Regions from separate parts of the Homo sapiens genome. Here all the other regions are reported to be linked to region 1. Evidence: microRNA targets listed by miRTarBase, many of them from high-throughput screens and not tested one by one. Region 1 holds a microRNA gene; each other region holds the end of a gene's coding sequence.
Evidence for each region. Region 1 holds the annotated microRNA hsa-miR-8485 (CACACACACACACACACGUAU, at 1,523-1,543, opposite strand). A microRNA usually pairs through its seed, bases 2 to 8, with sites in the 3' UTR of a target mRNA and lowers its output. Matches are read on the target gene's strand: a 7mer-m8 pairs with bases 2 to 8, a 7mer-A1 pairs with bases 2 to 7 and ends in A, and an 8mer does both.

Region 1 (4,067 bases):
AAATCAAACCAATTCTACCAAAGAACAAATCAATTGATTTGATTATGAGTAGGTGGAGGTTACATTCTTTATCTTACTGAATTTGAGGTAAAATCGGTTAATCCTTTTATCCCCAATATTCATATTTAATCCAGAAAATGCTCTCTGGAACAAAAGTAATCATTACAAAATAAAGGCTTTATTCTACATTTTAGCAATAGTCTTTCCTTGGCTTATAAAAAATTAATTGCGGGGTATTCTCTTGATTGGGTACTTTAGATCCTGGTGACTGTTCTAACTGATGGGGCTGAAAGACAGTTCCCTTATCTCATAGCCAAATCACCTCCATGCAAATTGATCTGGGAGTGCCTTTAGAATAAACACAGCTGGATTCTCTGCAGCCATTTATGGGTCCAGTTTCCTAGGCTTAATTTTGATTTATAACTACTGAAATTAAATTAGCCATCTTCACTGCTTAAGGGTGGCTTTGATTTCACCAGTGCAGTAGGGAGACTATTTACCAACATATTTTATCAGTAACATTTCAACCTGGGTAAGGGGGTGGCGGTGGGGGGAAGGCATCTTATCTTTGGTATTTGTACTTGAGATTCCTTCAGAATATTTTAATTGTATTATTTACCGACAAATGTGAGGATTAGATTGTCAAATCAGACTCACATGAATTAAAGATCTTGCCCAGCATCAAGCTTTGCTAAATAATTTCAAGGATATAAGCTATCAAGTTCAGATAAGGTGCATCATATAACATAAAGTGGTGTACCTTATGTCATATGCTCCAGGTAGCCCTGCCTCATAGATCCTGGGTTCTATTAACTATGGGTAATCCCTTAGCCAGAGACATCTTGCTAGGGACAGAGATATAGTCTCTTATTCATAGTAAGTAACATTAGTCTATTTCCATTTGACAAAGAGATTAGACTAAGTCTTTGCTTTCCTCTAGGAGCACAAATTATTGTACAAAACGAGAAACAAAATTTGAGAGATTAAAATATGTGAAATATGTTAATAGTTCTAAGAAGGCTTTTATCTAGAACACGGTAATAAATGTCGACGTGCTATAGTAGGAAGAGTTGAAGATAAATGGTTAGATATCGCTTTTTATCCATATGACTTTGTGCATTAGTTTTTTGAGCCTCAGTTTTACTAATATTCCAAAGGATTAGGGAAATAAGCCTAACCAGAGTGACTCTGATTTTTTTTTTTTTTTTTTTGAGATGGAGCTTCGCTCTTTCACTCAGGCTGGAGTGCAGTGGCACAATCTTGGCTCACTGCAACCTCTGCCCTCCAGCTTCAAGCGATTCTTCTGTCTCAGCCTCCCAAGCAGCTGGGATTACAGGCGCCCACCACCATGCTTGGCTAATTTTTGTATTTTTAGCAGAGATGGGGTTTCACCATGTTGGGCAGGCTGGTCTTGAACTCCTGACCTCAGGTGATCCATCCGCCTCAGCCTCCGAAAGTGCTAGGATTACAGGCAAGAGCCACCACACCCAGTCGACTATGGAAATTTTAAAAGACAGTACATATACGTGTGTGTGTGTGTGTGTGTGTGTGTGTGTGTGTGTGTATGTATACACATATGCTATATACACACACACACACACGTATATCACAGAACTGAAGACCATAAAATGTTCTATACATATGAAAAAATGAGAATTTGAAATGTACATAATTCTTCACACAGATAGCTGACAGTGTTATAAATCTCCTTTCTTATAAATAAGAAAAACAGTCTCAGAAGTAAGTAATATTCTGATGGAGAGTTAGAAAAGAAAACCTGTCTTACAACTCTTTAAACATGCTTCTCCTCTAAGCTAAATCATAGTTTGCTAAAGAAGGTCGTGATAAGGTAGAAGAAAGACAAGAAAAGCCAAGGCAATGGGGTGAAGCAGGCGGAGAAAACTGTTTATGCCTCTTCTTCCAATGTCTATTTATTTTCTTTGTGGTTCTGAGCAACTATTTCTTCTTTTATCTTGCAACTGTCAAAGCAGCTCTCTGTAGAGAAACCAGCAAGCACACCCATTAAAACCAAAGCATGAATTTTCGGGTGAGGATCAGTGAGGCTCTCTTAAGAATACCTGAATTTTCACAGAGATAAACATATTTATTTGATTTAAATGGTAGAAAGTGTTAATTACTAAGTTTCATATACTACCAGGAGTCATAGAGAAGTCATTTTGGAGACCAAGAGTATATTCCTAGACCATGTAATCACATCATTTGAGTAGCTGCTTACTGAGTTTATTCACAATGAAAGCCTGATACATAAATTCTTTAAACAGAAACCAGTGGCATTGTTAATTTCCACTTTTGTTTCCAAATTGTTGCTTTTGTCTCATTGAGAGCATATTACTTACTTCAAGCACCTTAACAAACAAAGCTGGGTCATACACAAACGTCCTACTGTACCAGCAATAAGACAATATGAATACCCTGCAACCTCTCAACAACCAGAAGACAAAGATGTATTTGGAAGGGGCAGATGGGAAGTGAAAAAGAGAAATAAAATATACTTTACAGGGAATATTTTGCACACGTAATTCTGAGTGTTATATTTTTAGCTTGTATAAATAAACTTCATTAGTCTTCATTTTGAATATACAGGAAAAGTTTTTTTAGAAAAGACTCATTGTCACAAGCTGATAAGGTAAGTTAGGACAGTATATGATTAATATGCTACAATGATGTCTAAGAGAGAGGATGCTCATTAAATTTGTGTGTGACAAAAGTTGGAAAGAGTGTTAAGACCTTGAAATACTGGAGCATCTTTCAAAGTGAAACTTGACAAGTTAGAGAAATGGTCAGATAGAGAAATGGATTTTAATCAGACTGAAAGGAAAATTAATGTATTGGTTTTGTCAGTTGTACCTTCATCTTGAACGTAATGACTGCCTGTTACTTCCTCTGTGGTTTCATCCGAACCTAACGCGACACTCCCCTGAAAGGTCTCCTCTCTCCCTTCCTTGCTCTTCTGTAGCCCATGCTTCACTTCTCAACTATGGTGATGTTTTGAAGATGTGAATTAGATTACATCATTCTTTTCTTCAAATCCTCAAATAATATTTAGAATATAATTCAAATCCTGGGTTGCCATGGTCTACAAGGCCTCAAATAAAATAGGTTCTGCCCACATCTTTGTTTCATTTTCTTTCTTTTCTCTGCCTCCAGGTTGGCACTTTTGTTCCTTTAACTCTTCAATTTACCTTGGTGCTTTGTACCAGCTGTTCCCCCAAAGTAGACAGCTCTCCATAGCTCTTCACACGGCTGCACTTCCTGCTACTCTCACTTAAAGTCACTGCCTTGAGCCAATTTCGTTAATCTGGCTCTAAATAACAACACAACCCCATCTACACTACAGTTCATCCTAATACCAGTCTAATTTTCTTCATAACACCTATCATTATCTGAAATCATCTTAGTTGTTTCACTTTAGAATCCTCCTTCTCTCATGAGAAAGTAAACATTGTGCGGGCAGGGTCATGGTCTTGTTTGTCCTGTACTTCCCACCCGTACAGCAGTGCTGGCACTTAGTAGGTGCTCAGTAGATATTCGTTGACAGTATAAGACAGAAGTCCTCAAATGTTGTCCAAGGACATTTGGTAGTCCCTGAGACTTTCGGGAGGGCCAAGGGCCAAAATCTTTTTCATCATCTCACAAATATACAACGGTGCTGTCTAGAGGCCAAAGGATATATGCTATCACAAAAGATTGCCTGCAGAAGTAGTTGTGAGAATCTAGCTCTCTTAAGCCAAACATCAAAGAGATTGTCAATAATGTAAAATAAGTCACTCTTCTCACAAAATTATCTTAGTGTTGGAATATAATTATTTTTCATAAAAGTACACAATTTATTTTAACATGCAACATGCAATGTGGTGGCTATTTTAAAATGAATTAATAAATATATAAATGTTTTCTCAGTCAATTCTCAATAGAGTAAACACTAATACATATACATAACCTATACAACAAACATAAACTTCTCAGAGGTTTTCAATACATTTAAAAAGTAAAAAGGGATCTTGAATCCAAAAATGTGAAAACCACTGAAACAGAATCTCATCAAC
Region 2 (4,067 bases), not on the chromosome of region 1:
GTGCTTTCCAAGCAGAGGTGCCATGAGCCTTACAACTGTGGTTGCAGATGGAGGCGCCTCCATTAGGATCTCTTCCCTCTTCCACCCAGAGCTCTGCCCCCAGTCAGTGGCTGCAGCATGGGCCCTTTTGTCCAATCCCAGGGCTTGTTCCCTAAGTCAACCTCAGCACATGCCCAGCTCAGCCATGTCCCTTCACTCCCCTACAGGCTGGAACTGCCAGGGTGGTGCCCACCCAAGGCGGCTGTCTGCCATGACAACAGGAGCGTGTGCGTCAGGCTGGTCCTGCCGCACTTTCTGGGTTTTGTTTTCCACTCCTCCTCATTGCTCATCACATACTTACCTGGGGACAATGAAATAGGTCTTTGCTATTCCCTAGAAGTCACCAAAATGCTTTAGGACATTAAGTTAGTCCCAGGGTCACACTATACTAGGCCAGGGAGTCACCCCTTCACTAACTCCCATCTCCAGTGATACCCTGGTATGCACTGAAGCCTACTTACCAAAGGGGTACCATGTGGACCAGACAGCAGTCACAATACAGTCCAAAGAATGTCAAAACCATGGAAAACAGAACTTTCCTTCACATGCACTGTTGAACACTACTGCCTGTCCCTTTTATCAATCAATACCCGTTCTCCTAAAATTTAGAGAAATTATAACCCCAAAATATGTACAAAGCATCTCCCTTCCCCCACTTTCTTAGCCTGATCCCCTATCACTGAGGTCTCCCTCTGGGGCTGCGCCTCATCCTCCTTAGCTGGAGACTAACGTATCTTCCACTAGAGCCACCATGGGGTCCTCACCTCTCCAATGTGGGCTTCTTCCAAGTCCAAGGTGGAGGGCAAGCCCCGACCCTCTCTCATCTGCTCCGTGTTCCAAAGTGCAGGGAGCTATCAAGAAGGTCCTAAGTGCATACCAGCACTCGTCCCAAGCCCACACACATAAGCACCAAGAGAAAAAACACAAATCACCATGCCAAACAAAGGTGGAGCAGCTGCTTGGATTGGGTGCCCATAGGCAGAGGGCCCGGCTGCAGTTGTGGACAGGGAGTGTGTGGACAGGGAGTGTGTGGACAGGGAGTGTGTGGACAGGGAGCGTGGCCGGCCTTTCCTAGGCAGCTGTAGGATGTGAAGCAGCACAGGCCTGACACAGACATGGTAGGGCTTTCAAAAAGCCACTCGAGTAGAGTGAGCGCTGGCGACACAGCAGAGTTCCCACCCTGCTTCCATGCTGGGCTGGGCCACATGGAAACCTTCCAGGTGCCTTTTCCCAGGTGCCACTGTACCCCTTCACTTGGGGGCACCTCTCCCTGGCAGGTACTAGTCTTACCAATATAGCTGCTGGAGACAGAACAGAACTGAGCACAAAGAGAAAGTGATCTGTACACCTCCCATTCATGGAATGGTGGCCCTGCTGTGTGTCTTCCCTCCGATCACGCTTAAAGAGCACCATGGTCCCACCTGAACAGCCTTGGCTGGAGTCCAGGGGAACCTAAAGCCTGTATTCAGGCAGTTGTTCAGCAGGGCAATTGGGCTAACAGAGTTGATGGTGAGTGGGTGGCAGTAGTCTGCGGACCCCAGCAACCACTGAATGTCCTTGACCTTGCAAGGCAGCGGTTCTTCAGAATCGCAGTCACTTTTCCCAGCATCATCAAAACTCTTAAGAAGCCAGGCCCAAGGACCCAATCTCTGGGATCCCAAGACATATACATGTCTTTAGGTGGGTGCGGAGGTTGTCCTTCTGCAATCAAGCCAAGACCCTTCAGACAGGGGCAGCTGAGCCCAGGATAGGAAGCCCTATGGTCCAGGTCATGTCAATGTGGTTCATTTGGCATTGAAATATGGCGGAACAGCACAGTCCAAAGGGCGTGGCCAAACTCAGCCACAAAATGATTTCTTGGTCATCCCCCTGTGAGGAAGGATGAGGTCCTTCAGAAGGAGGACATGCATGCCAGTGCTGCATTGTCACCACACTAGGACCACGGCAGTCCACAGCTCTTTGCTTTTACAAATGCCACCAAGACCCTGGCTGGGTTGCCAGAGGCAGACACCCCCCCCGGCCTTAAGTGCTTAAGGATGTTTCCCGAAGGGAGTCTGTTTTCCCTTGGACAAAGGCAGCCCATCTGATTGCCCAGGCACGGGGAGTACATGCTACAAGGTGCCTTTGGAGACCCACAGATGGTGCGTGGGTGGCTGCAGGGCTGCAGTGAAGGCCACATGGCACCTGAATAGAGATGGGAACAGGTCTCAAGCTGGGCAAGGCTCGCCATCAGTGACAGGGGGTAGAAGCAGGAGTGACTGAGCATCAGCCGCTGTGGCACTGCCCATGGAGATCCTGGGCAGCAAAGGGAGTCGCTGGTATCCACCCTTAGCCTGCTATGACCCTCAGGCGTGGGTGTGTAGGAACCTGCAGCCTGATAGACCTGCCCAATGGCTGAGAGTCCACCACGACCTTATTTAGCAGGCAAGTTCCAGATTCCCCAAGCCTCTGGCTCCATCAGAACACCAGCAGCTGAAGTCAGGCATTAACAGAGGTGCAACATTGGTCCTTCCCAGTGAGAGCAGTGGGGCCTCCCAGACTGCATATTCATGTGCAGAGTGGAACCTGGCCCCCAGACATGGCAGAACTACGCTCCTTGCAGCAACCACTCGACCACTACAGCACAGATGAGGCCCTGCCCGCTGCACCGGGCCCTGGCAGGGCTGGGAGGCATCTTGGGCAGGAAGCCAGACCCCCTCTCCAGGTACACCCATCAAGCCACCAGCCTGGCCAAACGGGCATCTTTCTGTCCAGAGCTCATCAATAGGAACTGGGCAACCAGGTGGGGAGCCGCCAGGGGAGCTTGGAGAGGGCAGAGTAGGAGCCTCCATGAACCAAGTCAGGCTGGAAGGGGTCAGCCCTCGTGGTCCGTCAGCGTGCGGCGGAGTCCCTGTGCCTAAGTAGCAGAGCGGTAGTCATTGAAACAGGCCGGGATGCCAGCAAGAGGGAGGCGAGCATGCAGTGAGCGATAGGTACAAAGCTAGCACGTAAGAGGAAGCACGGCAAGGTGGGCAACCAGGGCGCCAGGAAGGACGGAAGGAAGATCTCCTCGGGGAACACGTCTGGAGAGGCAAGAAGGGAGGTCTTCAAACAGGGGCAAAGCTGTCGTATGGGCATTTCTTCTACACAGCAAAGAGCGTATGCTACCTGGGTGGCTGCAGACGCTACCAAGTGCTGGCGGATTCTTAAAGATTCCGTGCTCGGGCAGGCAGGGCTGGCGCTGGACTAGTCCCGTTGGAAGCTGGATGCACTGGGCAAGGCCCCGTGCCCGCAGAGGCCAGCTGGCGGCAGAGCATCTGCCTCTCTCGCACAGCCCTATTAGAGGCAGAAGTCTTCCTGATTTGGGCGCGCCGCGCATGCCGGAGCGGAGACTTGTAGGTTCTCCGCAACTCTGCCAGGAACCCCTGATAGTTGTTGCGCAAGGGGCTGTCAGGTTGCATGTGGGGGATAGCCCACTTCTCCGCCTCCCCAGTCAGTCGAGACACAAGGAAGGCCACACGCTCGGCCTCACCCGGGAAGCGGGAGGCCTGGAAGATCATGAATCTGTCCATCTGCATCAGGAACCCCGCCAACCGGCCTGGGTCCCCGGAAAAGGGCTCGGGCAGAGAGGTTGGAGGTGTGGTCATGGGTCGAGTCCCGTTTGAAGTAATTGAGGAGATGGGCGGGGTGATCTGCAGAGCCCCCGGGATCCGCGCCCTGGTGCGTAACAAGGTCAGCTCTGCCATCACGCTCTCCAGCATGTTGGTGAGATTGGCCTTCTCCGCCCGCAGGGTGGAAGCCTCCCGCCTCAGCGCCGAGTTGGTGAGGCGCAGGGAGGTCAGGGTGTCAATAACGTCATCCATCTGGGCATTCGGAGACGCTGCCAAGGCTGGGCTTTCAGCTTTGGACGTCTGCGGCTGCACCATGCTGGCCAGAGGTCAGCCACACGCTGAGATCCGCGGGTGGACCAAGAGGGTGTGGTGACCAGGTGGGCCCCTGTAGAAATGGGGGCAGTGTGGGGTGCACGACGGCAGGGCGCTGCGAGACCC
Region 3 (4,067 bases), not on the chromosome of region 1:
CCGGCCAGTCTACGAGCTCAGCCCCGACCCCAACAACACCGGCTTCATCAATCAGGACTTCGTGGTGTGGATGCGCACGGCGGCGCTGCCCACGTTCCGCAAACTGTACGCGCGCATCCGCCAGGGCAACTACTCGGCCGGGCTGCCGCGGGGCGCCTACCGCGTCAACATCACCTACAACTACCCGGTGCGCGCGTTCGGCGGCCACAAGCTCCTCATCTTCAGCAGCATCTCGTGGATGGGTGGCAAGAACCCCTTCCTGGGCATCGCCTACCTGGTCGTCGGCTCCCTCTGCATCCTCACCGGCTTTGTCATGCTGGTCGTCTACATTCGCTACCAGGACCAGGACGACGACGACGAGGAGTGATTCCGGCTTTCCAGGGATCCCTCCTGCTTCTTGCCAAAACTCTTGCAAGGTGCTTTTGGCATCTCCTCCTCGCCCGTCACCCAATTCCAACCTCGCCTAGCTTTTCCTCCCTTTGTGAATGAGGGGACCAGATAAGGGAATTACCCCCCTTGCTCTTGGGGGGCTGCTAGACTGTCTTGCCGCGGGGAGGGATGTTGACTGCAGAGTGAAACATCCTTGCAAACTCTTCCCACCTCCTTCACGACACTGAGTTGCCATGTGAGGTTCTTCAAGTCTGAGAGTGGAAGGGATCCCTATGGAGACTCCTATTAAACCCCTATTAGAGGAAGAGATTGAGAGACCTAGCAATGTGAAGTAACAAAGATCAGGCAGCTGCAAGTGACTCCTGAATCTTGAGTCCAGGGCTTTCGCCACTACAGTACAGTGGTTTTCTTTTCTTTGGTCGGGGAGAGTGGGCTGGAATGGAGAGTGAGGCCCACAAATTACCTGCAGAGACGTGGAGGCGTGAGGGAGAACATGCTTGTTAAATATGCAGGTAGATTAGGAGACACCAAACAGAGATTCAGACACAGTAAGGCTGGGATGAGATCCTCGAAGCTGTGTTTTAACAAACTCCACTGGAGAGTCCCATATTCCCTCAAATTTGGGAATCACGACCCTGAACCAGGTTGGGCCTGAAGCAGTCAACTGAATTCACTTTTTCGGATAGTAATTTGTTCCCAGGGGCAGTGACAACCATGATGTTCCAGGTTTGGTCTGGCACTCTGCCTTGAACGTAGGAAGCTCTTGATGATTTGTGGAATGAATTTTTAAAAAATTACTATCTGGGGAAAACTAGTTGGCATACAGAGTTGTAGGACAGGGTTTATGTGATTCATTTGATATTTTAGTATTTTGGTGTAAAAGCCAACAGGCAAACTTTGCCAGGTACTGTGTAGAAACTCGAAAATGTGAGGCCAGTTTGTACAGTTCAGAGGAAATGCTTTAACGTAGAATCAGATAGCTGGAAGAGATCTTCGAGGGAAAGTAAGTTCCCTAAAGTCACATCTATGTCTCCTAGCTCAGTGTTCTTTGTCATTGTGTGTGTGTGTGTGTGTGTGTGTGTGTGTGTGTGTGATTAGAAAGGGCTTCATTCATACCTTTTCCCTTGGACCTGGAAAAAAAATTTTTTTTATCTTTTCAAATGAAATCTATTGATTTCTAGTAATCATATTTGAATCAATGTTAAAGCATATATAGTCTTATATGTAAACTAGATTCTTAAGATTATTTGAACCTTTGAGATGAAGTTTACACTCAACTAAAATCATTCCATTGATTTTATTGATTAACATCAATCAGTATGTTTAAAGTTATTCTAAGAAGCAATAGTTTATTTTTAAAAACCTTGTATAGCAAAATAACTTAAAACCCTTTGTGATATCATCTTACCAGTTTATTTGGTAAAAACAAACAGTTATTTGGTATTTGTCAGAATTCTTCAGTGCCTGCTATTACAGCTATTTTCCAATTACTAACTTGATTATACTCACTCAAGGCAGTGCAAGATCTTGAAGTACTTTTTAGCAGTTAAGTAATATTGAATTGTATTGAATAGTTTACATAGTTTATTCTAGTCTTTGAAAATTACTGAACATGGACAATGTGCATGTCATTGACATCTGCCTTAGAACTTCTGGGACAATCCTGATTCGAGAGATTCTATCCCATTATTTACATATACCAAAAATACTTTGTTAATTTAATGTGTTGGCTTCCCAACTCCTGAACACGACACAATTTTATTATTAGATTTTGTATGGTGATTTTAGGCTATGAAAACATGATCATTATATGTATATAGATACATTTTTATTTGTTACAAATGTTTGAGCAGCTCACTAGCCCACCCCTCCTCTATTTTGGGTAAGAGAATTTACTACCTTTTTTAACTATGTAGTTGAGAGCAACATGTATTTTGTTATTTTTAGAATGGTCAGTATATTGCTATAAAATTTTAAATGAGACTATGAAAGTTAAAGTATTCTGATTCTGGTTAAATTAACGAATATGGTTCCAGGCCCTGTTCTCTGGGTTTTTGAGAGAGAATAAAGGTTATGTTTGTCTTACCTTTGTTATCGAGTTTGCTGAATTCTTTTGAACGATGATCTTAAAGGCACAAACACCACCAGCCACTTTGCTAATTTCTTAATAGCAGATTTACATTGCAGCAAGAAAACCATCTTTTATAGTAACATTCAGTTAAAATGAACTCAATTCATTGTTAACTTCCTAAAACAGAATTTGAACTTTATCAACCTCAACGTGTATATAAACTAGATAGTCCTCAATACTTTATCAACCTCAACATGTATATAAACTAGATAGTCCTCAAATACTGTTTGAATTTAATAAATGTCAATTTAAAAATTTTTGTAGTAGTCTTCTGCATTTTACTTCAATTATAAATTGCAATTATTTATTGGATATTTTGGACTTCAAAGCAGCAGAAACTTTAAAACTGAAATGGGAAACGTTTTCCTGCAATGATCCCTGTGCTGTAACATTTTGTCTGGTGTCTCAGGCTTCCAGGTTCTTGTTGGCCTGAATTCCCTTGTTGCCCAGTAAATGTTCACTAGCTAGAAGTATCTTCAGGAAGTGAGATAGAAAAGAGTGAACCTCAACAATTGGACTGGAAATGAGCTTTGACCTAACTTTGTAAAATAAAAGCATAAAAGAGAAAGTAAAGTAGTTGGTGAGAGCTCCTAAAACAATAATATGTCACTGTATTTTCTCAGATGGTTAAAAAAAATTAAAACAATAATATGACAAAGATTTTCCAGGTATCTCCACAATCAAATCAACTAACCAATTTGCTCACTATAAAATTATTGTTATTATTATTTTTTTTGAGACAGAGTCTCACTGTGTTGCCCAGGCCGGAGTGCTGTGATGTGAACTTGGCTCACTGCAACCTCGGCTCACTGCAACCTCCGCTTCCTGGGTTCAAGAGATTCTCGTGTCTCAGCCTCCCAAGTAGCTGAGATTACAGGTGCACACCACCACGCCCAGCTAATTTTTATATACTTTTAGTAGAGATGGGGTTTCACCAAGTTGGTCAGGCTGGTCTTGACCTTCTGACCTCAAATGATCTGCCCGCCTTGGCCTCCCAAAGTGCTGGGATTACAGGTGTGAGCCACCAAACCCGGCCTATGTAATTATTAAGATTCAGAGACAGACTAATAGTCTGGAATTTCCTTTAGAGCAAATATCACTTCATAATATATAATCAAAACCCTTTCTACCTTACTTTAAGTCTGTTGCCGTCTTCCTGTCATAGGAGATCTCAACAATCTTGAGTAACTCTCTAAGTTGCTGGTAGAGCTGCAAGGTCATCAACTAGTTCCTTGGATATAAGAAGTCCAAGGGCATACACGTAATCAAAAAGTAAATTCCCGGCCAGGTGCGGTGGCTCATGCCTGTAATCCCAGCACTTTGGGAGGCCGAGGTGGATGGATCATTTGAGGTCAGGAGTTCGAGACCAGCCTGGCCAACATGGTGAAACCCCGCCTCTAATAAAAATACAAAAATCAGCCAGGTGTGGTGGTGGGCGCCTGTAGTGACAGCTACTCAGGAGGGTGAGGCAGGAGAATTGCTTGAACCTGGGAGGCAGAGGTTGCAGTAAGCCGAGATCATGCCACTGCACTTCAGCCTGGGTGAC
Region 4 (4,067 bases), not on the chromosome of region 1:
TTTCATCATGTTGGCCAGGCTGGTCTTGAACTCCTGACCTCAGGTGATCCACACGCCTCGGCCTCCCAAAGTGCTGGGATTACAGGCGTGAGCCACCATGCCCGTCCTACATACACATTTTTATGGGAAGAGAAATCACAGCTTTCATCAACCACTCAAAAGAGTTCAGTGATTTGAGAAAAGTTAAGTAAGATGCACACAGCTACAGACTGGTGCTAAGCACTGATGCCCCAATCTGTATTTTATAGAAATCCTGGATCCACCACCGCTGCTGTTCACCCTCTCCCACCCATCCTGACCCAGACCCAGATGAAACAGGCCCTAATGCCAGCCCTTCAGGTCACTTCCTGAATAACCAATGGCTTGGAAAAAGAAAAAAAATATTTAATGGAATCTGTGCTCAAATAATATGTTACAACAAAAATATACAGAATGTACACAATACAAAAATACTTAGAAACAAACATTGCAGTCTGTGTTTTGTTTTTTCCACTTACTCAAGTCCTCGGAGGGGCAGTTCACTGTTGGGCACTGTTTTTAAGGCAGAGGAGAACCGTGCTTTCCAGCCAGCACGGGGAGCAACATGAATGATGCCAGGAAAGGCTTTCACGGCACCCAGGGAATCTGCATTACGTATTTGCAAATTAAATTGGACGCTGGGGGAAGATCCTGGTGTGGTGAGCAACAGCTCCCCTAATCCTCTGGGCAAGAATGGTTCTCATGGAAATCGAGAGTCCTATTAGCTGGCAAAAGAGCCTCATTAGGGAGCTTTTCCTAATTAAAAAACGAATGATGAATGGTGTCATTAAAGCGAAATTTCTCCTTTGAAGGTTTGTTTTCCCTTCCCCAGTTTCTGTGATTCCTCTCCCGTTTAATGAGAGCCAGTGAGTCTATGGCTGCTGTTTGGGGATTCCCCAGCTTTCAGTTTCTGTATCCTGTGGATAAAAGGCCAACCTACCTCCACCAGCCTGAAGATTTACACACCACCCCCTGGGCTGGCAGCCACCTCAGACAAGGAAAGAGGCACAGAGGACACGGCCAGCCTTGGCCATGGGGAAGTGCTGCTGAGAGGGTGGTGGGACCTGCTGAGGAGAAAGCCAGATGCCACAAAGAGAACCCCTCTGACCAGACAGCTGCCTCCTGACCTGGGGAGAGGCCTGGGTCAGGTGAAGTGACCCTATGACCCCACCCTGTGGCCCCGCTTGGAAGTCATGGTTGGGAGAGGGGATGGAGGTGGGTGTGCTGACAGAGAACAGCTGGGGCTGGTGGTCTAAGGTGTAGACGAGGGTCCTTGGCAGCAGAGGACACACTTAACATGGTGGGAGACACGATTCCGCCTCCACTGTCCTTCTCAGTAACAAGCTTCCCTGGGAGTCCCCGAGGGAGCTGAGTGCTTCTATGAGGGATTTCTAGAATCTTCTAGTTCAATGCTTTCTCACCCCTAAGAGAGGAAGCCCCCTCTCCAGGTCATACCAGACAGAGGTGGCACTCTGCTCATTCCACCCACACCACAGAATCCCCAGGGGCCAGGACAGGAATCTGGAGGGGATTCTCCATCCCTCCAGGAAAGGACCTCATCGCTCAGCTTAGTGCGGCTGCAGCCCAGGCAGAGGCAGCAATGTCCTGACTCCTTCTGCATCCTCCCCTGGTCTTCCCTGAGCCCAGCTCCACAGCCTCAGAGCCTCCTCCTCTGAGGCACTGACTTCCATCTACATCTTTCTATCACTAGGGCAGAGAACGGTGGGCAGGGCACACACAAGACGCCCCAGGCTGACGCAACACCGCCAAAGGCGTGGGCCCACAGTGCCACAGGCTGCGGCCCTCAGCATGGCACTGGTGCAGGGGAGCAGGACCTAGGGAACTACATATGTGGATGAGGCCAGGGCAATCTATTTAGCAGTGGGCCAAGATGCGGTATGGCTGGGCCTCGCCTGCCAGTGAGTGAGTGAGCCCATTTACATGTAGTCACCAGGATGGGAAGCCACTGTGGCCCAAGACCCCAAATGCCTGGCCTGACTGACCCTGGACCCTGCTACACTCAAGGGCCAGGATGGGCACCAGGCTGGAGGAAGACCGTTCCCACACTCCTGCCCCTGTTTCTGGACACGCCCAGCCCCCCTGCCTCCTCCCAGGCCTGGCGTTCTTTGTTCTTCTGGGCTGTCAGTGGTTGAGAATTCCAAGAGCACGATAAAGGGAGTGTCATCTTTTGTCAAAGGTCATCCTCATGCCCTCCATTCGGGGCCTGCACCAGCTCCTGTTAGGAGGGTCATTCCCTCCATCTTGTTTTCTCACCTGTGTAATGGGGTGGGGTGGATTTGATAACCACCATGTTCTCTCCCGCATCCAAGCCTCCGAGGCTACTGGCTGCCCTCCCTCTGAGGTTCATCCATGCACCCAACAATTCTCCTGAGGCAAAGTTTTCCAACTAAACTGGAATTCCTCTTCCTGTAGCCTCCTGTCCCCCTAACTTAAATGGACACATGGCCTCAACATTCCTACCCCAGCCTCTCTTGCGCCCCCAAAGCTCTTTCTCTCCTAAGGGAGATAGGATGGAACCTTTTTGGATATGAAGGCCATCTCAGACGGAAACAAGAGCTGAACCTGGCAAACCTCAGCATCCAGGGATCCTTGGAGGGCTTGAGCTCTCCCTCCAGCAGGGCCATTCTGCCACCGGTCAGTGATGCTCAGGGGCAGGTGTGGAAGGGACAGGAGATGGGAAGGAAGGGGGCAGGCTTTGTCAAAGCAAGGACATTCAGCAACCACAGCACACCACGGTCTGCCACCTCTCACGGATGCCCACATGGGCCCCCTGCATCCTCCATGCCTTCTCTGCAGGCGCTGTCGTGCCTCAGTTACCTTTCCCATCACATACACACATATACGCACACACACACACACACGCATGAATGTTTCAAAACACTGTCTCCATAACCAAAGAGAGGCACAAAGTAGTGTCAGGGCAGCAAAAGGAAAGAAAAAGACCCTAAAACAAGGCTGGGCATGGAGGCTGGGGCACCCGTGTGAGATGCCAATATCCTGGAAGAAAGGGAGGGAGAAGTCTGAAGCTGGTCCTGGGTCTGTCTTCTCCAGGGTGGAACTTGGAATGAAGTTTATTCCCCCTGCATGGGTCCCTCTCACTGGGTACCCCCAGCACAAGAGGGGTCCTAGAGCCTACAGGCTCCCTGCTCTGCCCAACCCAGGCACAACAGATCATGCCCCGGTGCACACCAACCAGCCCAGGAGGGCACCCTGGTTTCAGCCAGGTCACAGCTGACATGTCCAGTAGGCCCTCTTCTTACTGGAGCCCCAGACACAGCAGGTGTCAAGGAGACACCACATGGCCTGCAATTATTTCTGAGCTAGAGAGGGGCCATGCCTGGACGCAACAACCTTCGAGCCTTCCCATGTCTCTTAGGGTCTCTGAGGGTAGAGGAGGAGGAAGAAGCTGCTGCTCAATCCGCAGCAGTGAGGGGGCACCCCCTGGCCCCATGGAAGAAGCCCAGCCCAGGTGAGGGAGGGCCACTCTCACACCCCACCCCAGACCTTCACCCTGGCCCGATGTCATCAGAGCAGCCGAGAAAAACGACAGCAGCCACATCAACTCCTCCGCCAGATGCCTTTCAGAAAAGGGTCTCCACTGTGTGTCCAAATCTAAACACAAACATTACAGTGGCCCAGAGTCTTCTGTCCTTGTCTGCCCGGCCTAGCTGAGCTGGTGATGAGAAGAAACCTCGCAGGCGCTCCCTGTGGGTGCTGCTTTTCCCTCCCCTCCCCGACCTTGGGCCTCCAGCCCTCAGGGGGGAGGCGGCAGCTTTAAGTCCAGCAGGGTGTAGGCAAAGATGTTCCAGAAGACAGCGAACAGCACGAAGACGGTGTACATGGCCACAAAAATCCACCACAGTGACTGGTCCTGGAGCCTCTGCTCGTAGTTCCTCAGGACCACCACGCCCAGGGTGATGCCCACGGCCACGCCACCCAAGTGCGCCACAAAGCTTGGGTGAGGGCACGGGGGATAGGCCGACGGGTGGAAGCGGAGCCACACGGCCCGCCCAAACTCCATGCTCACT
Region 5 (4,067 bases), not on the chromosome of region 1:
TAAACACATACATCATTTCCTTGTTCTGGATCTATCAATGATTTCATACTTTGACTATATCTAAATTATCTGCTTTTCCCAGCCTTCAAAGTGGTCTTTAATTCACCCCTGCTTTCCATGGGTTAAATTTCCTACAATGCTGAGATATTTATATTGGTTTCCTCCTGTCCTACGAACTTCGTACTGATTTCTGCCACAATAAATTTGATTAGATGAAAAAAAAAAAAGACTTTTTTTTTTTTTAAGATAGGGTTTCACTTCTGTTGCCCAGGCTGGAGTGCAGTGGCACAATCTTGGCTCACTGCAACCTTGGCCTCCTCAACTCAAGAGATTCTTGTGCCTCAGCCTCCCGAGTAACTGGGACTACTGGTGCGCCACTGTGCCCGGCTAATTTTTGCATTTTTCTGTAGAGATGAGATCTCACCACGTTGCCCAAGCTGGTATGGTACTCCTGAGATCAAGTACTCCACCCACCTCAGCCTCCCAAAGTGCTGAGATTACAGGTGTGTCGTCACTGCACCAAGCCAATGAGGCACTCATTTCTGAATAAAGTACAAGCATTAGTAACATCTCCCCTGGTCTCTCCAGATTGGTTATGCTGCCACAACTGAATTCTAAATGGGTTAAGTATTATACAATTACTTAGGCTTCTTTGGTAGGTATCAAATAAAACATCCACCTAAATTCTTAAGAACCTTGTTAAATAGTGGCATTTACAAACTCTCTATACAGATTCTGACAGCACATTTCTATTGGAAGACTATGGAATCACAATGAGGAAGGTAGTACTATATAGATCAGCAGCTGGCTTAATTGGCTTCCTGTAACTTACTTATTAACAAATTAGGTTACAAAATACAAAGTCAACTTAATGAATCATCGTATTTGGCATTGAACTCAAAGCTGAATTGTGTGAATTGTGAGGTGCTTTCCATAATTCAACTTGCTTAATTACCCATATGAATGAATCATTCATACCTCAAGCCTGCTAACACTTTTGGATACCTGATGTTTATGTAATAGTGATGTTCATTTGCTGAGTAAGGCATGAGTAGTTTCCTAGGTAAGCAGAAGCAGTCCTCAAAACAATCATGTGACGCAGTAACAACAGGGCTGTATTTTGAAGGCTCTAGAAACCGAAGACATGTATTTCAAGAGCCAAGTTACTTTTTTTTTTCTTTTACCACTTATCCTCAAGTTCTACAAGTTACTTACACTGCATCAATTCAAATACATTTGGTTATTAGATGTCTATTTTTTAAAGATGGACAAGATAAAATTGTGTAAATTTACAAGAAGTAATGCAAACTGCTAATAATGCTTATTTAAAGGAGTTATTAAAGCAACAGCTTACTACCAACCCTACGCTTCTGAAAAATGTGCACAGGTGGGAAAAGATATGGGCATAGCTCTTAGCATATTTTAACAACTGAAAATGTGGCAGGGAAAAAGTCTTTATTCTGAGAGTACAACCATCTTACTTTTGGGGTATTAAAATTACCTTTTATGAGATAATTCATTTTCAATGTTATTTGACAAAATTCAAAGTTGGTCATTCATTTTAGTCTCCTCATTTTTAGTAAATTTGCCTCCTGTAAAATCTAAGTTATGGGAACCACTAGAACATGTGTGAAAACAAGTTGCTGTGAGATGCAGTGATAGATTTTACAAAAAGAAGAGCATTTCATGAACACAGATCAGGATATCCAAAATTTTGGTGAGGTGGATTTTTTCCAAAGTCTGGTGACCAACTGTGGAAAAATAATTGGTTAATCTGACAGTGAGGCCCCTTAACAGTGTTGAAGAAAATGTATCCGAAAAAGCACCCAGAGTCAAAGAAGTGAGAGCAATGCTGTATTTATCCCCCACTGACATGTGAGGAAAGAACAATTTTGGACATACACCTTGTAAAACTTCTCAAAAACCAGACTACATTTCTAACTCTAAAATACATGCTGCTGGTCATGAAGATGTTACGATCATATAATTGAACCTACTGACATTACATGTAATAAATTAAAAACCCAAGTACCATGCTTAGTGTAGTGTCTGGTACATACAAGTGCCCAATAACAATTAGTTTTATTTCTAGAAGGATTACCTCTGTCTGCCTCTTGTACATTCTTATAAAAAGAAAGCAAAGTGAACTGAATAAACTGTATCTTAAATAGACTAAAGAAAAGCTTTTGTATTTGTCTTTTCTCAACTAAGCAGTTTCCAGAGTGCCTAGCAAGGTCTCAGAAACGCACTCAGTGAAGGGAGTTAAATGGTAACTCTTTTACAACAGAAAGGATTCCCTACAGAGCCCAGCAGAGGCGGAGCACTAGGTTGCCCAGCCTGGCCTTGAACTCCTGGGCTCTTGTACTGCAGCCATCCTCCCACCTCAATCTTCCCAGCAGTTGGGACTACAGGCCTGTGCCATGGCACCTGGCTAAGGATAGCTATTATGAGAGTAGTAATGTAAGATGAAACTAAAAAGATTCATAATAGTAGGATTAAAAAGCACAAAAATTTTAAAGATTCTCCAGTACGTTTATTTCACAAACTTTTTTGTACAGTTGACCCTTACACACGGGTTTGAACTGGGTGGGTACAATTACGCGCATACTTTTTTCAATCAAATGCAGGTGAGGTCACACAGATCAGCATTTGTGCATGGGATGTGAAACTCATGTGTACGGAGGGTCAACTGGAGGGCCAACTTTTCTACATATGGGTTCTGCAAGACTTTCTGTGGGACTTGAGTATGGGCAGATTTTGGTATATGTGTGGCCCTGGAACCAGTCCCTAGCGTATACAAGGGATGACTGTATTTTAATGGTTTATAGTGTTAAAAAGAGAAAAATATCCACATAAACACAATTTTGAACACTGAACTATTTTAATATGAATTAATGTCTTATGTTTATTACCAATTATCTTCAAATTGCAGCAGCCCATGAGTTTGGTTGTAAGTGTTCTTGCCATTCCACCCCAGCTGTCACTGAGTCAGTTTAAAATACACACACACACACACACACACACACACAGACACAAGCCTTTTGTAAAGTAAACAAATCTTTTATACTGTAAATAACTGTTCCTCAATGGAACTTTTTGTATCCAGTTTACTTCTTTTCTAAAGCTGGGATATTCATATTAAATACACAACAATCTCTATAAAGCAAAGAGTCTATCTCTGTGAAAACACAAGTAATTCTTGATGGCAATATTTTTCTTAATTCACCTAACCAAATGCAGTTTGGAAGGCCAAAACGAGAAAAAAACACTTCAGATTATCAAAACCAAAAGAGATATGAAAAAATAACATATTTAACAATGTAGGTGGGAATTTTAAATACAAGATCCTGTTGAAAATATTGATATTCAAAGAAACAAACAGCTTTGGATCCATAGCCACAATTTAGGTTTTCCTAGATTAAAATCAGAAGTGATTTTATTGTTGGAAGATACATTAATTCTTTGAAGTCAGAATAAGAGGCTTGACAATTTAATTTCTAATTAAGTGACTGAATAGACAAAGGATCAAATACAAACAGTAGTGCAGGAAGAAAATAAATTGGAAGAAATAATTGTTCAACCAGTAGTAATAATTAAGACCACCATTTTAAAATTTTCTATACACAAAGAATGAGAAAATATTGTTATTATTATTATACTTCTTTCTTCTTCAGTATTAGTGGACCCACATTATCTCCTGTCAATTCATTGTGTTTATTATGTGAACCATCGCAGGCAGGAAACTAAAAAGAAAAAAGAATTACAAGTGTTATTTTTAAAATATGATTCATTAGGTAGAAACATTTGTGAAATGCTCTCAGAAAGAAAGCATATCACTTGCTAAAAAAAATCAGATCGTTTTCCTGAGTAATAGTTACATTCTACATCCAACTGAACCATATTCAAAATCTAACAATTTAAACAGTTACTTCATTATTTGGTTTAGATTTTAAATAAAAACCTATGAATGAGTCCATATGAGTGATTAAAATAGACAACAGGTTTAAAAGGGAATCGAATAAGTTCTTGGTCATTTGTGGAGCTTAAAATTCGAGCTCACCTATTGC
Region 6 (4,067 bases), not on the chromosome of region 1:
CTCTTGTCTCAAAAAATAAATAAAAAAAAATTTAACATAGTGCCAGTTTTTTTTTTCTGTTATTTCCCATTAAATTTTCTGTACTAAATGTTCAGGAATTTCTTAAAATATGATAAGAAATCATTTCAGTAATAACATTTAGCACACTACCAAATTTATTTGATCGTTTATTACATTTTACATTTGTACAGAAAATTAAAATAGTAACTGGGTATTTGGAATCTGAAAGTTTTAAGTATATTTTGGTAACACTGTTATTTGGATTTGAATGGCACAAGGATGGGGACCACCTGTTCGGGATGTTACTGAAATCTGTTTCTTACGTTTTTAGAGGCTTCGTGACGGAGTTATCAGAGACATTGAGAGGCAAATTCGGAAAAAAGAAAACATTCGTCTTTTGGGAGAACAGATTATTTTGACTGAGCAACTTGAAGCAGAAAGAGAGAAGATGTTATTGGCAAAAGGATCTCAAAAATCATGACTTGAATGTGAAATATCTGTTGGACAGACAACACGAGTTTGTGTGTGTGTGTTGATGGAGAGTAGCTTAGTAGTATCTTCATCTTTTTTTTTGGTCACTGTCCTTTTAAACTTGATCAAATAAAGGACAGTGGGTCATATAAGTTACTGCTTTCAGGGTCCCTTATATCTGAATAAAGGAGTGTGGGCAGACACTTTTTGGAAGAGTCTGTCTGGGTGATCCTGGTAGAAGCCCCATTAGGGTCACTGTCCAGTGCTTAGGGTTGTTACTGAGAAGCACTGCCGAGCTTGTGAGAAGGAAGGGATGGATAGTAGCATCCACCTGAGTAGTCTGATCAGTCGGCATGATGACGAAGCCACGAGAACATCGACCTCAGAAGGACTGGAGGAAGGTGAAGTGGAGGGAGAGACGCTCCTGATCGTCGAATCCGAGGATCAGGCATCAGTGGACTTATCGCACGACCAGAGTGGGGATTCCCTCAACAGTGATGAAGGAGACGTGTCTTGGATGGAGGAGCAGCTGTCCTACTTCTGTGACAAGTGCCAAAAATGGATACCAGCCAGTAAGGAGCTTCTCAATTCCTTTGATTTGTCAATTCCTGTGTGAAGGTTTGTTTTTCCAACCTGTGAAAGAAACGTGAATGTAAAAGAGACCTAAATAAAAGGATAATTATATTTATTCTCTAGTTGATCAGCTATAAATTTATATAAAACATAGGCATGTTTGTACTAATGAAACGTACTGTCAACCTCTATCACATTGTTAAATTAACACTTTTGGTGGTAACTCAATAAAATTGAGAAAATTGGAAATCCTGTGTTACTTAAAGAATTAGCCATATTTTTCTAACAAGGTCACAGAGATTTAGGGCCAAATTCCAGTCCCAGTGTTGAATTCATGTTCAAGTTTATAAAAATTACTTTGTTAATATTTAACTTACGTGGAGAACTCCTGCTATTGTATACTGAAAAGAGGTTAGAATTAGCAGATTGAAGGTGTTTTTTGCCCTTTTTCTAGGACCAGTCTTTTTTTCCATTTTCCTTTTTTTCTGCTGGCAAGAGATACCTCATACACACTCCCTGATTGCCTCAATCTTGAGATTTTCTTTTCTTTCTTTTTTTTTTTTGAGATGGAGTTTTGCTTTTGTTGCCCAGGCTAGAGTGCAATGGCATGATCTCGGCTCCTGGGTTCAAGCGATTCTCCTGCCTCAGCCTCCCAAGTAGCTGGGATTATAGTGTTTGCCAGCACACCTGGCTAATTTTTTTTTTTATTTTATTTTTTTTTTTTGAGACGGAGTTTTCCTCTTATTGCCCAGGCTGGAGTGCAATGGCATGATCTTGGCTCACTGCAACCTCCGTCTCCCAGGTTCAAGTGATTCTCCTGCCTCGGCCTCCCGAGTAGCTGGGATTACAGGCATGCGCCACCATGCCCGGCCAATTTTGTATTTTTAGTAGAGATGAGGTTTCTTCTCCATGTTGGTCAGGCTGGTCTCAAACTCCCAACCTCAGGTGATCCATCCGCCTCGGCCTCCCAAAGTGCTGGGATTACAGGCATGTGCTACTGTGCTCGGCCCTGATCTTGAGATTTTCAATGGCCAGCTTCCTGGCACCTGAGGAGTATGGCTTGCCAGCCATCATATGGTTTATACCGAAACAGGATTTTCCCATTAGGCAAGAGACTAGTAAAGATATAGGTACTTGAGGAATGCCTTTGTGTAATATAATTTGTAACCAAGTCAGAGAAATACATATATAACTGTGAAGAGGGTCATTTTCTGGCATGTGGAAATGTTTTTCTTAAAATGGGTTCAACTTCAAATTTAGTCACTGTTAACAAATTAATAGTAACATTTTCACAGGAAATGCAGAATTTACTAGTTAGCTGGTTTTTGCTTCTGAGCGGTCTCTGTTATTGATTTCAGGTTCTGCCTGAATTCTCAGTGGCTTTCCCTTTGTCCTGTTGAGGACAAATTTTAAGCTACCCTTTGTGGTCAGGACCCTGCTAACTGTAGTTTCTTTGATTCCCACACAACTTTGCAGTTAGGGTGAACTTATTCTTCACAAACAATTCTTATCCTTAGGGCTTTGCACAGTTTTTTTCTTCTGGAATATGCATCTCCACAGCCTCCATTCTCCCTATACACAAAGAGACCCCTTTTCACCTGGCCAATTTCTAATCCTAAGCCTCCCCCTAATATAGGTTGGGCCTCCTTTTATTTACCCTCACACTGCCCTGTGGTACACAGCACATTCCATTCCTTATGTGTCACAGAGCATCAGCATCACCTGAGGGACTAAGAAATGTAACTCCTAGGCTCTGCTTCAGAAATTGATGCATTTTATCTGGGCTAGAATCAAGCATATTTAGAAAACCAAGAACAACTTGGGTGATTCCAATGCACTGTGAGCATGGAGAACCACTGTGTTGTTGTGATCACCTGTTTTCTATGCAGCCCTCAGGGAAGTGCAAACCTGTGAGATCAGGCACCATTATCTGTCTTGGACTTTGTATTCCCAGTTCCTAGCCCAGTGCCTGGTATGCAGAGGGAGCTCATATTTTTTGAAAGAATGTGTGAAGAGACCTGCCTCTGGGAGTCAGGAATGTGACAATTGGGAAATCCAGCAACAATACCTGCTTTTCCAGTACCTTTCTCCTAAAAGTTACTGGATCCTACAGATCTTAGTGGGCGTATACTTGGTGTTAGAAGAATAGAAATCTTTCTAATTCCCTTCCTTTTCCCCATTTTGCAATTGTGGGTTGGCTGAAGAAAAGAAGACAACATGGGAAAGGAAAATCTGGGTGATAAACGGATTAAACCTTTAGGTTACCGCTGCTCTAGATAAACCCATGATGTGACTTTTTGTTTTTCTCCTAGGTCAGCTGAGGGAACAGCTCAGTTACCTTAAGGGTGATAATTTTTTTAGGTTTACTTGTTCGGATTGCTCAGCAGATGGCAAGGAGCAGTATGAAAGGCTGAAGCTGACATGGCAGCAAGTGAGTAAAAAGCCCTTCCCCAAATCCATGAGGGTGGTTCCCCCAGGAGTTTGTTGGAACGAATATCTAGAAACTTAGGGATGAGCTTTTGAGTTGTTTGGAGGGGCACTTTTTATTTCGCAATGAAATTAGATACCGAATATGTGGAGAAGGGAGTGAAAAATACTCGCTGTAATCCCAGCACTCTGGGAGGCCAAGGCGGGCAGATCACCTGAGGTCAGGACTTCGAGACCAGCCTGGCCAACATGGTGAAACCCCATTTCCATTGAAAATACAAAAATTAGCTGGCTATGGTGGTGGGCCCCTGTAATCCCAACTACCTGGGAGACTGAGGCAGGAGAATCGCTTGAACCTGGGAGGCGGAGGCTGCAGTGAGCCCACACCGTGCCACTGTACTCCAGCTTGGGCGACAAAGTGTGACTCCTTTTCAAAAAAAAAAAAATATATTCACTGCTGACTTGGTGAATTGGGCTTGAGAGGCTTGAGAATCTCATGATTTCTTTTATATGTGATACCAAGCTCTGATTATAATTGAAAATGAAATTCTCATTTTCCTGGCAGCCATTTTAAGAACAATAAAACTATTTTTTTA
Region 7 (4,067 bases), not on the chromosome of region 1:
TAACATAAGATCACTTAACCATTTCCCAATTGTTGGATATTTACTGTTGTTACAAGTGTTTCACATGGATATATCACATGCCATAAAAAATATCTACACCTACTCTTTGTTGGTTGTCTTCTTTTTGAATTATATCCCTGGAGTAAATTCCCAGAAGTGTCACTTATGTAGTCAAAGGATGTAATCATTTTTACATTTTACATATTTCAAAAATGAAATACTACCCAAAAAATGTGTGCTTTGCAACATCAGCTGTGTAATAAGAATGTGGTAGGTTTATCATTGAATTTCTATGCCAAATCAAGTATTCCACTGGGCTTCCTTCGTTTAAGAAAAGGGATTAAAGTAACAATACTTTCCCCACATCAAGGATAACACTCCAAAACAAGGATTATACTGCAGACAACTACCCTTTGTGGTTTTATTCTAGTCTTCAAACTATATCATTCTCTGAAGTCAAGGATTACTATACGAACTACAAGTGATATTGGATATCTATCTGATATTTTAAGGTATGCTTCAAATTTAATGCAGGGATTAAAAGAATGGGACTTGGACTCAATTTAGTTCTTTACAGGAAACCAGCATTTTTGGCTCCAGAATCCCTCTAATTTAAACATCCTTAGATTTACTGTTGTTGATGTAAAGATTTAATAAAATGAGAATTGGAATTCTCCATTAATTTCTTTTTATGTTTATTCCCAAGGTTTGCAAGTGACAGCATAAAGACGGAACACAACAAATCCTTCCTGAAGTGAATTAGGAAACTCCAAGGAGTAATTTAAGAACCTTCACCAAGATACAATGTATACTGTGGTACAATGACAGCCATTGTTTCATATGTTTGATTTTTATTGCACATGGTTTTCCCAACATGTGGAACAATAAATATCCATGCCAATGGACAGGACTGTACCTTAGCAAGTTGCTCCCTCTCCAGGGAGCGCATAGATACAGCAGAGCTCACAGTGAGTCAGAAAGTCTCCACTTTCTGAACATAGCTCTATAACAATGATTGTCAAACTTTTCTAACTGGAGCTCAGAGTAAGAAATAAAGATTACATCACAATCCAATATCTGTGGAATTCATTGTGTATGTTTATGTATTTGTGTGTAGGTGTGTATGTGTGTGTGTGATACATACATACATCAAGTATCACAAGACATTGACCTTATATATTATGCACTGTGATGTTTTTCCGTCTTTAATTATAAAAAACATATTGATCACAACCACAATTTGGAAAATGTTGCTCCATACCATCCCATACCAACACTCACCACCTGCAAATAATAGCATTACTAGGAGCTGCAGTCACAATGAATAAATCAACAATTCGCTACAAGATCTAGGATTATTTGTGTATTTTGTTGAGTGTGTGTGTGTGTGTGTGTGTGTGTGTGTGTGTGTGTTGGCGTGTATCTAATACCATTGTATCTCATTGTTGAGACTTTGTTACAAATAGGGTTTCTGGTTTCTTTCTCCCCCCTCGTGGTTCATTTTGTTTTTGTCAAACCAGTGGTCTAAAATCACAGAAATAAGCAATTACTTCAATCATGTGGAATCCAGGGGACCTATCTTTGGAAAGCACAGAAGGAGATCTGAATTGTGTGATCTCTTGAGGCTGCTTTCAATGCTGGAATTTAAATTATGTACTGAACAATCTTTTGCTTATTAATAAAAAGATTACACACAACCATCTCAATCTTTTTTTTATATATACTTTAAGTTCTAGGGTACATGTGTACCATGTGCAGGTTTGATACATAGTTATGCATGTGCCATGTTGGTTTGCTGCACCCATCAACTCATCATTTGCATTAGGTATTTCTCCTAATGCTATCCCTCCCCCAGCCCCCCACCCCCGACAGACCCTGGTGTGTGATGTTCCCAGCCCTGTATCCAAGTGATCTCATTGTTCAATTCCCACCTATGAGTGAGAACATTCAATGTTTGGTTTTCTATCTTTGTGATAGTTTGCTGAGAATGATGGCTTCCAGCTTCATCCATGTCCCTGTAAACGACATGAACTCATCCTTTTTTATGGCTGCATAGTATTCCATTGTGTATATGTGCCACATTTTCTTAATCCAGTCTATCATTGATGGACATTTGGGTTGGTTCCAAGTCTTTACTATTGTGAATAGTGCCGCAATAAGCATAAATGTGCATGTGTCTTTATAGTAGCATGATTTATAATCCTTTGGGTATATACCCAGTAATGGGATCACTGGGTCAAATGGTATTTCTAGTTCTAGATCCTTGAGGAATCACCACACTGTCTTCCACAATGGTTGAACTAGTTTACAGTCCCACCAACAGTGTAAAAGTGTTCCTATTTCTCCATATCCTATCCAGCATCTATTGTTTCCTGACTTTTTAATGATCACCATTCTAACTGGTGTGAGATGGTATCTCATTGTGGTTTTGATTTGCATTTCTCTGATGACCAGTGATAATGAGCATTTTTTCATGTGTCTGTTGGCTACATAGAAGTCTTCTTTTGAGAAGTGTCTGTTCATATCCTTTGCCCACTTTTTGATGGGGTTGTTTGTTTTTCTCTTGTAAATTTGTTTGAGTTCTTTGTAGATTCTGGATATTAGCCCTTTGTCAGATGAGTAGATCGCAAAAATTTTCTCCCATTCTGTAGGTTGCCTGTTCACTCTGATGGTAGTTTCTTTTGCCATGCAGAAGCTCTTTAGTTTAATTAGATCCCATTTGTCTATTTTGGCTTTTGTTGCCATTGCTTTTGATGTTTTAGTCATGAAGTCCTTGCCCATGCTTATGTCCTGAATGGTATTGCCTAGGTTTTCTTCTAGGATTTTTGTGGTTTTAGGTCTAACATTTAAGTCTTTAATCCATCTTGAATTAATTTTTGTATAAGGTGTAAGGAAGAGGTCTAGTTTCAGCATTCTACATATGGCTAGCCACTTTTCCTGGCACCATTTATAAATGGGGAATCCTTTCCCCATTGCTTGTTTTTGTCAGGTTTGTCAAAGATCAGATGGTTGTAGATGTGTGGTGTTATTTCTGAGGCCTCTGTTTTGTTCCATTGGTCTATATATCTGTTTTGGTACCAGTACCATGCTGTTTTGGTTACTGTAGCTTTGTAGAATAGTTTGAAGTCAGGTGGCGTGCTGCCTCCAGCTTTTTTCCTTTTGCTTAGGATTGTCTTGGCGATGCGGGCTCTTTTTTGGTTCCATATGAACTTTAAAGTAGTTTTTTCCAATTCTGTGAAGAAAGTCATTGGTAGCTTAATGGGGATAGCATTGAATCTATAAATTATCTTGGGCAGTATGGCCATTTTCACTATATTGATTCTTCCTATCAATGAGCATGGAATGTTCTTCCATTTGTTTGTGTCCTCTTTTATTTTGTTAAGCAGTGGTTTGTAGTTCTCCTTGAAGAGGTCCTTCACATCCCTTGTAAGTTGGATTCCTAGGTATTTTATTCTCTTTGAAGCAAGTGTGAATGGGAGTTCACACATGATTTGGCTCTCTGTTTGTCATTGGTGTATAGGAATGCTTGTGATTTTTGCACATTGATTTTATATCCTGAGACTTTGCTGAAGTTTCTTAACAGCTTAAGGAGATTTTGGGCTGAGACAATGGGGTTTTCTAAGTATACAGTCATGTCATCTGCAAACAGGGACAATTTGACTTCCTCGTTTTCTAATCGAATATCCTTTATTTCTTTCTCTTGCCTGATTGCCCTGGCCAGAACTTCCAACACTATGTTGAATAGGAGTGGTGAGAGAGGGCATCCTTGTCTTGTGCAGGTATTCAAAGGGAATGCTTCCAGTTTTTGCCCATTCAGTATGATATTGGCTGTGGGTTTGTCATAAATAGCTCTTATTATGTTGAGATACATTCCATCAATACCTAGTTTATTGAGAGTTTTTAGCATGAAGGGCTGTTGAATTTTGTCGAAGGCCTTTTCTGCATCTATTGAGATAATCATGTGGTTTTTGTCATTGGTTGTGTTTATGTGATGGATTACGTTCATTGATTTGCATATGTTGAACCAGCCTTGCATCCCAGGGATGTAGCCAACTTTGAGACAGTCT

Region 2: the mRNA of RTL6 is a reported target of hsa-miR-8485. Seed matches in the 3' UTR shown: 7mer-m8 at 936-942.
Region 3: the mRNA of TMEM30B is a reported target of hsa-miR-8485. Seed matches in the 3' UTR shown: 7mer-m8 at 1,446-1,452, 7mer-m8 at 1,448-1,454, 7mer-m8 at 1,450-1,456, 7mer-m8 at 1,452-1,458, 7mer-m8 at 1,454-1,460, 7mer-m8 at 1,456-1,462 and 10 more.
Region 4: the mRNA of RHBDL3 is a reported target of hsa-miR-8485. Seed matches in the 3' UTR shown: 7mer-m8 at 2,893-2,899, 7mer-m8 at 2,891-2,897, 7mer-m8 at 2,889-2,895, 7mer-m8 at 2,887-2,893, 7mer-m8 at 2,885-2,891, 8mer at 2,870-2,877 and 2 more.
Region 5: the mRNA of CISD2 is a reported target of hsa-miR-8485. Seed matches in the 3' UTR shown: 7mer-m8 at 3,023-3,029, 7mer-m8 at 3,021-3,027, 7mer-m8 at 3,019-3,025, 7mer-m8 at 3,017-3,023, 7mer-m8 at 3,015-3,021, 7mer-m8 at 3,013-3,019 and 7 more.
Region 6: the mRNA of PET117 is a reported target of hsa-miR-8485. Seed matches in the 3' UTR shown: 7mer-m8 at 521-527, 7mer-m8 at 523-529, 7mer-m8 at 525-531 and 7mer-m8 at 527-533.
Region 7: the mRNA of NMRK1 is a reported target of hsa-miR-8485. Seed matches in the 3' UTR shown: 8mer at 1,109-1,116, 7mer-A1 at 1,118-1,124, 7mer-m8 at 1,125-1,131, 7mer-m8 at 1,127-1,133, 7mer-m8 at 1,129-1,135, 7mer-m8 at 1,377-1,383 and 15 more.

The regions. Positions count from the first base shown.
Region 1 is chr2:50,694,650-50,698,716 of GRCh38, forward strand. It overlaps MIR8485 (microRNA 8485), which reads right to left and starts at 1,613; the gene lies at 1,523-1,613. The region is part of intron 5 of NRXN1 (neurexin 1); the gene reads right to left.
Region 2 is chr22:44,493,613-44,497,679 of GRCh38, forward strand. RTL6 (retrotransposon Gag like 6) reads right to left here. Exons shown (of 2, transcript NM_032287.3): 2 at 1-4,067. The coding sequence starts at 3,944. The coding sequence ends at 3,225. Among named protein-coding and RNA genes, the nearest start is that of RTL6, 2.6 kb to the right of the region's middle. RefSeq lists enhancers at 1,737-2,514, 2,515-3,292.
Region 3 is chr14:61,276,392-61,280,458 of GRCh38, reverse strand. It overlaps TMEM30B (transmembrane protein 30B), which reads left to right. Exons shown (of 1, transcript NM_001017970.3): 1 at 1-3,089. The coding sequence ends at 367. It also overlaps a transcript of PRKCH not described here. Among named protein-coding and RNA genes, the nearest start is that of TMEM30B, 2.9 kb to the left of the region's middle. RefSeq lists an enhancer at 1-659.
Region 4 is chr17:32,320,956-32,325,022 of GRCh38, reverse strand. It overlaps RHBDL3 (rhomboid like 3), which reads right to left. Exons shown (of 9, transcript NM_138328.3): 9 at 364-4,065. The coding sequence ends at 3,794. It overlaps LOC124903980 (a long non-coding RNA gene), which reads left to right. Exons shown (of 2, transcript XR_007065711.1): 2 at 249-464. Among named protein-coding and RNA genes, the nearest start is that of C17orf75, 19 kb to the left of the region's middle. RefSeq lists an enhancer at 1,514-2,393.
Region 5 is chr4:102,887,017-102,891,083 of GRCh38, reverse strand. It overlaps CISD2 (CDGSH iron sulfur domain 2), which reads right to left. Exons shown (of 3, transcript NM_001008388.5): 3 at 1-3,743. The coding sequence ends at 3,654. It also overlaps a transcript of SLC9B1 not described here. Among named protein-coding and RNA genes, the nearest start is that of CISD2, 20 kb to the right of the region's middle.
Region 6 is chr20:18,141,877-18,145,943 of GRCh38, forward strand. It overlaps PET117 (PET117 cytochrome c oxidase chaperone), which reads left to right. Exons shown (of 2, transcript NM_001164811.2): 2 at 332-1,293. The coding sequence ends at 481. KAT14 (lysine acetyltransferase 14) reads left to right here. Exons shown (of 11, transcript NM_001392073.1): 2 at 332-1,043; 3 at 3,357-3,475. The coding sequence starts at 785. Among named protein-coding and RNA genes, the nearest start is that of PET117, 6.0 kb to the left of the region's middle.
Region 7 is chr9:75,058,207-75,062,273 of GRCh38, reverse strand. NMRK1 (nicotinamide riboside kinase 1) reads left to right here. Exons shown (of 9, transcript NM_017881.3): 9 at 707-1,697. The coding sequence ends at 726. Among named protein-coding and RNA genes, the nearest start is that of NMRK1, 28 kb to the left of the region's middle.